Linked DNA regions of Homo sapiens: region 2 is linked to region 1. The links come from fine-mapping of genetic effects on gene expression. Tissue or cell type: hippocampus. Region 1 holds a variant in brackets; the other region holds the start of a gene. All regions are shown on one strand. Distances are from middle to middle.

Region 1 (5,000 bases):
CAACATGGCGAAAGCCCGTCTCTACTAAGAATACAAAAAGTAGACCAGGTGCGGTGGCTCGTGCCTGTAATCCCAGCACTTTGGGAGGCCGATGCGGGTGGATTGCCTGAGGTCAGGAGTTCGAGACCAGCCTGGCCAACATGGTGAAACCCCATCTCTACTAAAAATACAAAAATCAGCCAGGCCTGGTGGCAGGCACCTGTAATCCCAGCTACTCGGGAGGCTGAGGCAAGAGAATTGCTTGAACCCGGGAGGCGGAGGTTGCAGTGAGCAGAAATTGTGCCACTGCACTCAGCCTGGTGAGAGAGCGAGTCTCCGTCTCAAAAACAAAAAAAAAAATTAGCCAGGTGTGGTGGCAGGCGCCTGTAATCCCAGCTACTCGGGAGGCTGAGGCAGGGGAATCACTTGAACCCGTGAGGCAGAGGCTGCAGTGAGCCGAGATCACACCATTGCACTCCAGCCTGGGCGACAAGAGTGAGACTTCGTCTCAAAAAAAAATAAATAAATAAAAATAAAAACTAAATTAATTAAATGTAATTAATTAAAACAAAAACAAAATTAAAACATCAGCTCCTCAGTTGCACTAGCCACATTTCAAATGTCAAAAGTCGCATGTGGTTAGTGGTGACCAAACTGGACAGTGGAGATAGACGGTATTTCCAACATCACAGAAAGTTCTATCACTGTGCAATACCAGTGAAAAGTACCTCCATTCTCTCAGAAACACATCTGGACAACTTCCCTTATGAATTTCTATTTCAGTGTCTATGCTTTTCTACTTAGGGGTATTAAGTTGTTTGCTTCTAGGGAGTTACTTATCTCTATTTTTCTGCCTTATGCGCATATACACATATTATCTAATCTTTTAAGATCATCATCCAAATCTTTGTTTCCTCTTCGCTAAGTGGCTTATTCTCTTTGCCATTGCCTCCTTAAATGTGAAATGAGAGTAAACGCGGAACACTGATATTTATTTTGGGGTGCAGTGGATCACCTATCTTCGATCAGTGATGAAAACCAAATAAAAGCCAAATGCTATTTATTATTAGAAATGGTATATTAATAGTAGTGTAACAGCAAGGACTGACTGCATTATCAGCAATTTGTAGTAAGTGTTTTTACCACAGTGTATTAGCCCTTGTTTTCCATTTAAAACATGTCGATTTAAAGAACTTCTGAAGTGGTGATCCAGTCACACCAGATGGCGTTCAATCCAGTGCTATCGTGGATTGTGGGAGTAAAGCTCTAGTCAGAACTCACTGACATGGATTTTAAAGAAACGCATGTTGTTACTGCTTTAAGAGAAGTCAATGTACTTTTGTTTCAAGTAAATCATCAATATTTTGAATAACTCTAAACTGATGATTCTACAAAATACTGACTAAAGCCTCAAACTCACCTGAATTATATACTTACCATTAACCCAACACTTTAAAAACACTGAAACCTAACAAGTTTGTTCACATCTTAGGTTAGCAGTTTTCTTTTATTTTACAACTATGGTTATGGCTGATTTCACTACATGATTTCTAGCATCTACATACCTGTTTGTCTAGTATACAGGCACAAGACCTAGTACTGTATGCTTCAGTGAAAACTTTTTGAAGAATATATTTACTATTTATTGACACCAAGACCCAGGTAGTGCTTAGATCTTTACCCCTACTCTGGTGCTTCTTCTTTCCCAAGTATTAGGGAACACAAACCAAACTCCTGGGTTTAGATGACAAAAGGAATTTAGAACTTTGAAATCCAAGTCTAATTAAAATGTCTGAACTGTTCTGGAAGGAGGAAGAAGAGACATAGAGAAGAAAGGTGTCAAACGACAAATTATTATTATTATTATTATTATTATTATTATTATTGCTGTTTATTTATTTTTGAGACAGGGTCTTGCTCTGTCACCCAGGCTAGAGTGCAGTGGCGTAATCACAGCTCACTGCAGCCTTGACCTCCTGGGCTCAAGTAATCCTCCCATCTCATTCTCCTGAGTACCTTGGACTAAAGGCAGGTGCTACCACACCTGGCTAATTTTTTTTATTTTTAGTAGAGACGTGATCTCGCTATGTTGCCCAGGCTGGTCTAGAACTCGCTCTCACGTAATCCTCCCACATCGGCCTCCCAAAGTGTTGGGATTACAGGCATGAGCCACCACACCCAACCAAGAGATTTATTTATATGAAAGCTGTGATTTGTTTTTAGCTAGTTAACAGTGTCTAAGTATGATCACCTTTAAGAGAAGGTAGCTGTTTCTCCACAGTTTCATGATGGGGTCCTTTATTTTGACAAAACCCAAATTGCATGAGCTAGAAGTTAATGCAGAAATACATGGCATGGCAA[A/T]TACTGCCAATAGCAAAATCCTTTTTATTTATTTATTTATTTGCTAAGTCATTGTTGTCTGCCTGCCAAATATGAAGTATTGATTTAAAACAGATGGACTCAGGCTGGACACAGTGGGTCATGCCTATAATCCCAGCACTTTGGGAGGCTAAGGTGGGCGGATCACTTAAGCCTAGGAGTTTGAGACCAGCCTTGGCAACATAGTGAAACTCCACCTCTACAAAAAATACAAAAATTAGTTGGGCATGGTGACACACACCTGTAGTCCCAACTACTTGAGAGGCTGAGGTGGAAGGATCACCTAAGCCTGGGAGGTCAAGGCTGAGGTGAACCGTAATTGCACCATTGCACTCCAGCCTAGGTGACACAGTGAGACCCTGTCTCAAAGAAAACAAAATAAAATAAAATAAAATAAAATAAAATAAAATAAAATAAAATAAAATAAAATAAAACAAAACAAAATAAAATAAAACAGATGAACTCCAATATACAAATCAGAATTTAAGGGATTATTACTATGGGATCTAACTTCCACATCTGTTTTATATTATTTTGCTGGTTTAATTTTGAATGCAGTCATGATGTATACTCAAACAACCACAAATAGAAACTTTTCCCTTTTTTGTCTCCAAAGGTTTGTTTTCCATTTGGTTTTATTAACTGCTTTCTTCTTTACATTTGCATTATGCCATTAAAAATTAGAGGGCTGTGAATATAGGTTGGAGAGTATACCTGTATTTAACTGTTCTATTCTTTCACTTTTTCTGTAGATTGGAAAACTTTTAAAATACACCTATAAGCATGAGTTGACGTTAACTAAGTAAAGCAAACTGTTCCCATTCCCTCTCCCAAAAAGAATTCCTCATTGCTTTCTCTACGCCTTGGTATATGCCAATCACCCGACTTAGAATAAAAAACTTTCTCCTCTTAGCATCTCCCCCTGGCCCCCCGATTGCTACTTAATATTTAATTCTTTCTGAAGTTGTGTATTTAATATATGCCATATATAACCTCCCATTCGTCCTTGCCCTCATACATTAAATATATGTATTTAATATATGCCATATATAACCTCCCATTTGTCCTTGCCTTAGACTTCCCTATGACTGTTAAAAAACCCAGAAGCTCTGGCATGCTTTGGAGGGCTTGGCCTTATCTCCTCTCCATCGTTTCGTGGATCACACACTCCAACCACACCAGCCTACTTACGATTCCCAGGGCATACATTTACTATTTTGACGCCATCCTTTTGTTCATACTACTCTCTATACTTGTGAAGCTCTTTCCCCTTTGCTCTATCACTAAAATCCCATTCATCTGACAGGGCCCTGCTCAGATGCAACCCTCCTTGACAAGTACTTTCTGATCCCTCTAGTCAAAATTACTCTGTCCTCAAAATTTCTCTACATCTTAAATTTTTTTAATTCTTGAAAATAGAAACTCTCTGATTTGTGAATTTAGTCTCCACATTACCTAGAACAGTGCTTGCACACAGTAGGAACTCCACAAATATTTACAGAATGAATAAAAATTATTAATAATGATATACCAGACTTTTGGCAGGGACCACTGCTCTTTGTATACCAGAATCTACCACATAGATTGGTAGTACCAATAAATAGGTTAGTAGTGCCAAGCGCAGTGGCTCATGTCTGTAATCCCAACACTGTGGGAGACCGAGATGGGTGGATCACTTGAGCTCCGGAGTTTGAGACCAGCCTGGCAAACATGGTGAAACCCTGTTTCTACAAAAAATACAAAAATTAGCTGGGCATGGTGGCCTGTGCCTGTAGTCCCAGCTACCCGGGAGGCTGAGGTGGGAGGATGGCTTGGGGCAGGGGTTTCAGTGAGCTGAGATTGTGCCACTGCACTCCAGCCTGGGTCAAAGAGCCAGATCCTGTCTAAAAAACAAACAAACAAACACCAAAAACCAGATTTGTAGTTTACCTGTAAACTCAAAAACCAAAAACTCAGAGGATCCTTTTGGTTTTTAACATTAAACATTTGCATCATTTGCATTAAATAAAACAATATTTAAAAAAGGTTGGCAAAATCAATTAAATATGTCAGGTGGGCTACTGGATGGAGAGGTGCTATACAACACTGTTTTGGAGGCAGCCCTGGGCCTCTTACCATTCACCATCCCAAAGCAACACAGACTACCAGGGAAAGGAAAAGCTATTATATTTTGGAAATGCTTCCTTTGATTTTTTTTTTTTTTTTTTTTTGAGATGGAGTCTTGCTCTGTCGCCCAGCATGGAGTGCAGTACGATCTCGGCTCACTGGAACCTCTGTTGCCCGGGTTCAAGTGATTCTCATGCCTAAGCCTCCTGAGGAGCTGGGATTACAGGTATATGTTACCACGCATGGCTAATTTTTGTATTTTTAGTAGAGATGGAGTTTTGCCATGTTGGCCAGGCTGGTCTCAAACTCCTGACCTAAAGTGATCCACCCACCTCGGCCTCCCAAAGTGTTGGGATTACAGGCGTGTGCCACTGTGCCTAGCCTCCTTTGATTTTTATAACATAAAATGTTACTTGAACAGGATGTTTCCATGGGTTAAGACAGAAAACTCCTATGTAACAGGAAACAATGAATTCTACCACACTCCTTTCAGATAAACATTTTCTGATCAACCTGTACTTTGGAAAGAGAACAAC
Region 2 (8,052 bases), 200 kb before region 1:
TAATTCAGTTCACTTCCCCACCTGGAGATAGCGTCAGGTTCCACAGGCTAAGGACTCAGTCCCCAAGATGCTCCCCTTCTCCCGATGCCAATCACAAGTCCCAGAGTATTTTAGCTGTGCTTCTGACCAACTGACTATAATTGAGGTTCCCACAATCCCCTCATTGGTTGGATTAATTTGCTAGAGCAGCTCACAGAACTCAGGGAAACACGTTGACTCACTTATTATAAAGGATACCACAGAGGACACAGATGGGCAATGCATAGGGCAAGGTATGGGGGAGCAGAGCGCCATCCTCCAGGAGCCCCGTGTGTCCAGCTGTCCAGAAGCTCTCCAGACCCTGTCCTTCAGGGTTTTTATGGAGGCTTCATTACACAGGCGTGATTGATTAAGCCATCGGCCATTGGTGATCAACGTAACTTCCAGCCCCTCTCCCCTCTAAGAGAGAATGGGAGTGGGGCTGAAAGCCCCAGTCCTCTAATCCTGCCTTGAACTTTCTGGAGTAGCCCCCATCCTCAAGCTACCTAGGGGCTGCCAGCCAACTGTCAACTCATTAGCATACAAAAAGACACTTACCACTTTGGAGATTCCATAGATTTTAGGAGTAACATGCCAGGAAATGTGGACAACAACTCAATATGTATTTTACGATATCACAAAGGGGAGCCAGCCTCCAGATGAAACCAGCAAAATGGGACCCAGAGTGGAGAGACAAGGACACTGGTCCAGGGGCTACTGATTCAAGCCTCACCTGAAACCCACATCACCTCCAGACTTCTGAGCTATGTGAGCCGCTAATTCCTTCTTGGGTTTAAGCCAGCGAAGTTTCAGCTCTCTACTCCTTGAGACTGAAAGAGTTGACTAACTCCTGTGAGGCTGGATCCATGAAAACAAAGGCTGTCATCATGATCAGGGCTCTCATCCTATCTCAGCTCCATTTCCCTCTGGGTTGGTTTTGCCCTTAGGCAGGCCCTGCTTTCCTAGTGACAAGATAACACCTAAAATCCAAATTCAGCTTAGCAATCCCCCTGGAAAGAAAGTATGTCTTTTATACCAGTCAGGTGTCTGCTGCACCAATGCCATGCAACAAGCACTCTGAAAATCTCAGTTGCTTATAACAACCATTCCTTTCATACTCATGGGTCTGCAGGTTAGTTGGGGGGTTGTTAATATCAGAGTTAGGCTGGACTCCAGTCTCTGGTTAGGTTCAATTTGCCCCACAGTCTCCATCCTGGACTCCAGATGAAGGTGCCATGGTCGCCTGGGTGTACCTTCCTTTCTCATGGTGGGCAGGAGCTCTAGAGGGGCAAGCGGAAACACAAGATACTTCTTTAAGGCCTAGCTTGGAACCCACACATCATCACTTCTACCGACATTCCATTGACCAAAGCAAGTCAGTGGCTGAGCTCACCATGGATGGTGTGGGGAAGAATATTCACCCACAGTGAACCATGCAAGGGAGGGAGGGAATGAAGAAGCCTCAGCAAAACTCCATCAAACACGTCTTCCTCAACAGTGCCTCAAAGATCTTGGAACTGACTCATTGGCCTGGCCTGGGGTCAATGCCTGAGGGAGGTAGGAGTAAGGGTACAGCTAGGGGTCTCCCATATGGGAAGAAGGGTTATTTCCCAAATGGAAGTCAAGGTGTTGCTGACACAAGAAAGGGCAATGGATCCCACATAGGCAATGAATAAATAATTACATAAACCAGCACTCAGCAAACGGCAACGTGAAAATAAATCACCTGAGATGCTATTACAATGCAGATTCTGAGAGCCAGGCATGGTGGCTCCGACTGTAGTCCCAGCTACTAGGGAGGCTGAGGCTGGAGGATCTCTCAAGCCCAGGAGTTCGAGGCTGCAGCAAGCCACAATCGCACCACTGCACTCCAGCCTGGAAGACAGAGCAAAATCTCATCTCTTTAAAGAAAAAAAATTCATTTAATAAAAAATAATGCAGCTTCTGATTCAGTAGGTCCAGGGTGGGGCCTGAGATGCTGCATTTCTTTTTTTTTTTTTTTTTTTTTGAGACGGAGTCTTGCTCTGTCACGCAGGCTGGAGTACAGTGGCGTGATCTCGGCTCAGTGCAACCTCCGCCTCCCAGGTTCAGCAATTCTCCTACCTCAGCCTCCTGAGTAGCTGGGATTACAGGCACGCACCACCATGCCCAGCTAATTTTTAGAGACGGGGTTTCACCATGTTGGTCAGGCTGGTCTCAAACTCCTGATCTCATGATCCACACGCCTTGGCCTCCCAAAGTGCTGGGATTACAAGCGTGAGCCACCGAGCCCAGCTGAGATGCTGCACGTCTAAACAGTCCCAGATGATGCTAGCAAGGACCAGTAGCAATGAGCAAGACTGAAATTGGGAGAGTCTCTCAGCCTTCTGATGCCACATTCTCATTTACAAAATGATAATTCCACCTGCCACACAGACTTTTCTCAGCCAGGAAGATGGTGCCCTCGGGGGGATAAGGTGATGCGACATTTGTGCTGTCACTCACCTCCTGCCTGCCCCCTGCACCTCGAGGCCTCCCTCAGCCCCCAGGAAAGGACTCACAGCCCAGCCAGCAAGGAGACAGGAGGAAGATATCACAAAGTGAGTGCAGCTTCTGTTAACTGCCTTAAGCTGCTCCCTGCAATAATGTTGGTGTAATCCATAAGATTCAATTATGGTTATCAGACAATTAGGCACACCACAGCGAGGTTATTGCATAATTAATGCTCAGTCCCCATCTCAGCCTCTGAGAGTGACACAGGTTACAAGATTCACCTGCCCCGCATCTGGGAGAGGAGCAGGGGCACCCAGGATGGGGAATGACCTCCCTGTGGGCTCAGAGGAGGATGTTCTTAGGACCCCAGAGGCATGGCAAAGGGACAGTGTGTGGCTGAAAGAGCTTGAGTCAGTGTGTGCCCAGGGCCCTCACGCCTGCCATTGTGTTTAGGACTTGGGCTTTAATCTCTGGAGCGAGATTCAAATCCTGCCTCAACTACTGATTGGCTATATGGCATTAAGCACTCGCCTTACATTTTTAAAGCCTCCATCTCCTTGTCTTTTAAAGAAGGGAATTGATGATGTTATGAAAACTGGATGAGAGAGTTTGCATATTGGTTAGATGGTTCCTGCAGTACTATTTTCATTATTTCCCTCTCTGAGCCTCAGTGTCTTCATCTGTAAAATGGGAATAATTAGCCTCACCTTGCCTAGGCTTGAAAGATCAGCCGGTAGTTTGAGACCTGCCTGGGCAATATAGCAAGACCCTGTTCACCACAAAAAAGGAAAAAAAAAAGGATGAAAGATCAGTTTGTGAGTCAAGTAAGACACACATGTGAACGGGATGTGTGGAGTGCTTTGCTAACGCGCCATTGTCTTAGTTACTATGTGCCTGGTTTTCTGCTCAACCCTCCAGGGTACGACTTTGTACAAGTCCCCAGGTCTCAACAGGACAGTGGGTGATCAGCCCACCTGAGAAGTGAAACTCATGATTTGGGTGAGTAGACTAGAGGAGAATCACTTCTTTCTTTCTTTTTTTTTAGACGGAGTCTCGCTGTGTCACCCAGGGATCTCAGCTCACTGCAACCTCTGCCTCACCGGTTCCAGTGATTCTCCTGCCTCAGCCCCCCGAGTAGCTGGGATTACAGGCACACGCCACCACACCTGGCTAATTTGTTATTATTAGTAGAAACGGGGTTTCACCATGTTAGCCAGGCTGGTCTTGAACTCTTGACCTCAGACGATCCACCTGCCTCAGCCTCCCAAAGTGCTGGGATTACAGGCATGAGCCACCATGCCCGGCCTGAGAATCATTTCTTGAGCTATGATCTGTAACATTCAAATGAGCCTCAACGGACACAAAACAGAAAAATCATCAAAAATGTCGGTGAAAAGTTCAGGTGGGAGAACTCAGGTGATGGTGCAGACAGAAGCAAGTAGGGGAGAAAGCTGGCTTCAGGGAGAGTGGTTAGGCCTTTGTGAGAAAGACTGGGGACTTCTCATATCATCCTCTGTGTCCCAGTTCCCAAAACACACACGCACATGGGCACATGCATGCAGGCACACAAAAACAAGCCCATACACCAGACGAAAAAATACAGATGCAGGTACACACACATGGACATGGACATGTGTGTGCCTGTGCCCATATAAACAAACATTAGTGCACACACACACTCACACACACACAGGCTCGGGCAGTATGTGCTCACACACAACCATACACACAGATACGCACAGAGGTACATTCACACACAGACCAACACACACAGGCACACAGATGCATGCACGCATGCACGTGCGCGCACACACACACACACGTGCACCCACCCTCAGTGATAACCTTCCAATCCACTGGCCTCTCCGAAATTAGCACAGACCATTTTCCCACGACCCTTTCTCGCTGAGCGTGTGATTCCAAAACTGTCCACAAGAAGGTGCTCGGGAGCCAGAATTCAGGCGTTCCCGGCCCGCGGACGCTTAGAGAGGGGAGCTTCGGAGTTATGGGGGGACCCACCCTTCCATTTAATAACTGAGAAAGCCACGGGAGGGGACTTGCTGGGCTCACAGCCAGTGATCCCTGCCCTGTTTCCTTATGGGGACTGCGGTCAGAAATGGGGAGTGGGGCAGAAACTGTCACTGTCACGGTCCTGTTTAGAGAGGAAGGTCGGAGAAACCAGTGCCGTGGAAGGCTCTGGGGCGTTGACAGGCGCTGTCCCCAGCTCACCGGCTCTATGACCCTGGGTAAGTTACCTGGCTTCTCTGTTCCTCAGTTTTCTCGTCTTCCCTGACCCAGGCTTTCCCGACTCCTCTAGGGGCCCCTTCCCCTCTCCATGAACACCTTCAGATCTCGGACTGTTTTCTCCACTCAAGTGGCATCTCAGCTATCCCCTCCCGGGTTAGGCCTCCCTGGCCCCTATTTAACGGTGTCCCCACCCCCACCACTATCTTGTTTGTACCAACACTTGCTGCCTGACAATGCACACTTGTTCATTTGTTCACGTTTATTTTGTCTTCTCCAGAAGAATGGAAACTTCGTCAGAGCAGGGACGTGAGGGTGAACTGCTCACCCGGGCACCGCTGGCGACCGGAACCCAGCTCCCTCCGGGCTCCGGGAGAGGCGGCCTCAGCTGTGTGCTGGTGCTGCCCTCCAGCGGCGCTGGGTCCCCATGGCACCTGGCTTTCTCCTGCTCCCCAGGGGCCTTTTCTTCTCCCGCCCACCTGTCACCAGCCGCCAGGGCAAGTCTCTGTGTGACTCTAGGGTGAAGGTGGAGGGACCTTGCCTCCGAGGATTCATCCCACCCGGATTCCGATGAGTGAGGGACCCTCTCTGGCACCTGGTGTTTGAATGGCCAGCCTCACAGTTAATAAAGACAAGTTTGGTATCAGCTGTGGGATCCGTCCAGAAAAAGACACCTTTGGGGCAGAAATATAATGGTGCCTGTCTCGACATAGTCTAATAAGGAAAGAAAGACAAGCCAGTCCAACGGTCCCATTTTACACATGAGGTCACTTCATCCCCACCTAGGACAGGAGGGTACAACGGCCTGGCCTAAGATAACCCTAGAATATGGTCACTCATTCTTCCACCCACTGAGAACCTCAGGGCAGTAGAGTTTTATGCAAAGCATGTGGTCCTGAAAAACTTGCATAATTCAAAGCGTGCATAATTTCTGACTAATTTTGCCAGAGAAATGAATGCAAAGTAGAAAGGATAGGTTGCATACATTACTCCAATTGTGGCATATTTTTGCCTTAATGCTGCTTTTTATTTCCCTGGCATTATCGCTAATATTTCATAACGCACTCTCTGCTAAATTAACAGTGCAGCATTTCCTGCCGGTGGTTTGGCCTTCTTCATAACGTTTTATCACATCTCACTTCCTTTCCAATGTTATCGATTTTCAGGTGCGTTTTTCAGCACCACCACTTAAAGAACACTTGGATGACATTGTTACAGGATATGGGTAAAATATTTAAAGTTATAATAACTGTGAACATTGAGAAAATGGCACACCAGTCACCAGAATCTCCTGCAGAAATTAGAAATTCAGAGGCATGTAAACAACAGTGCATGCATATAGAAAGCAGGTATTTCTATTTAATAACCAAAGCAACGTCGCCATGTGGCAGGTTTACAGTCCTCATTTAACAGCTCACTTAGTTCCTCCGACTCAAGGAAACTGCAATTCTTGACAGGTTTTTTTTTAACTGAGGGGCTTGGCATTATTTCCAGCTTAGTGCATAAACATGTATTAGCATTTTTATATTGCACCTTGCCAAAGTCACAGTTTAGACTCCCATAAACAGTGACTTCACCCTAAATGGTCACCCTAAATGGTTAAGGCTGTGTCCTTAACCCCAGAAGGGTGGAAATGTATGACTCCACCTAGTCATCTCAGATACGGATTTCAGAAATCTCAGCCACCCACCTCATACTTACACAGGGACCTTTTTGGAGGCAGCATCATCTGAGGCCGCTCTTGCCCAATTTGGCTGGCCCCACCTCCTCCCCAACGTCATCTTCTCTTGCAGTCTAGAGAGGGGGGCTACTCCCCCAATATAGCATCCATATTTAGATCCATGTTGGAGGGTGGGTAGAAAGGGGAGGTAGGATGAGGGAAAATTGAGTCTCAGTTTCACACATTTGTAAGATCGTCAGACTTTCCACATTGCCAAGAAACTCGTCAGCACAACCGCTGTGAATTGGCTTCTTGGCCTTCGTCTGCCCAGAATTGCTTCCAGAATGGCTCCTTCAGCTTGGCCTGAGCTTGGCCCCAGAAAGAGTGCCACGGGCCCTAGGAAGGAGGAAAAGTGGGGCATTCAGGGCAGGCTCTGAACCCACTTGGATTCCAGTCCTGATTCCATTTGCATGTGACCTTGAGCAAGTCTCTATGCAAGGCACTTCACCTTTCTGGGCCTCAGTTTCCACCTCTGTCAAATGGGGATAATAATACCATCTACTTCCCAGAATTGGTGCCAGAATGAAAAGCAGTCCCTGCTGTGATAGTGTCTAGAACAGAGTAAGTGCCCAATAAATATTCCTTCGCTCTTGTTGCAGTTAGAAAAGCGACTGGATGAGGCGTACATTTACTGGTACCCTGGGATGTATAAGGGCCAGTGTCCGGGTGAGGCGATCCTGCCCCTCGGAGAATTTATGGTCCAACTTTGGAGAGTGAACCTGCCCTCCCACTAATTCAAGAATTCACCAGCCAGGAGAACTGCATGTGGAATTGCCCGGTCCAGCCCTGACTTTGCGCAAGTGTCCATCAAGTCTCCTTCTGCCTCTGGGCTGCCTCTGAGACTTGAGGGGGAGTAAACAGGAGCCTAGGGGTCTCTCCACCCTCCAGGTGCCCCATCAGGCCGGCACCTCCCCACCAGCCCACCCCTCCCCTTGCAGCAGCAAATCTGCAAATGTGCCTTGCAAGCATGTCCAGTGGGCCAGAAGCCACACTCATCCTCCCCACCCCTTCAGAGGACAGCAGAGGTGCCTGGCCCAAAGGCGGTGGTTGGAGCCTGGGCTTCCTGCCTGGGGTGGGGTGGAGAGGGATCTGCCTTCTCTTCTGGGCCCCTGCCCCCCAGGTTTTTCTTCCTCGATACTCACGTTCCTTTCCCTGGACAATCCCTTGCTCTATGAGGGCCTCAGCTTTCCCCTCTGAAAAATGGGCAGCCTGGACTTCTCCAGCTCCTCCAGCTAAGACATTCATCTCCCTATCTCCACACCAGCCTCGCCGCCAACACCCCGGTCCCTCTCTCTCTCCTCTGCTGTTGTGGGGGCCTGTCCCTGGGGTCACTGAGGCTACTGCTGGCTGGGCTCCCAAGCACCAGAGAAGGACTCCACAGAACAATAGCAGAAGGAAGGGGGCCATTCTTCAGGAGGAGAGAATGAAATGGCCTAGCTCAGCCATGCCTGCCCTAGGTCCAAAGCCCCCAGCTCCATTCCTGCCTCTTCTGCCATGTTCCCATGTTTCTACATATGCATGTCTCCCACCAGACAAGGTGGTCCTGAGAGCAGGAGACACCCAGGCTATCCTCGCTGTATGCCTAGCACCTGGGTGCT

Evidence for each region. PIP is the estimated chance that this variant, and not a neighbour inherited with it, causes the effect.
Region 2: LINC02716 starts here. The variant in region 1 is fine-mapped to the expression of LINC02716 in hippocampus (GTEx, PIP 0.94).

Annotation. Positions count from the first base shown.
Region 1 is chr11:45,972,590-45,977,589 of GRCh38, forward strand. All of the region lies in intron 7 of PHF21A (PHD finger protein 21A), which reads right to left. Among named protein-coding and RNA genes, the nearest start is that of LARGE2, 52 kb to the left of the region's middle. The variant A/T (reference allele first, on the strand shown) is at 2,341.
Region 2 is chr11:45,766,979-45,775,030 of GRCh38, forward strand. It overlaps LINC02716 (long intergenic non-protein coding RNA 2716), which reads left to right and starts at 4,454. Exons shown (of 2, transcript NR_027134.1): 1 at 4,454-4,736; 2 at 5,015-5,380. RefSeq lists an enhancer at 4,146-4,647.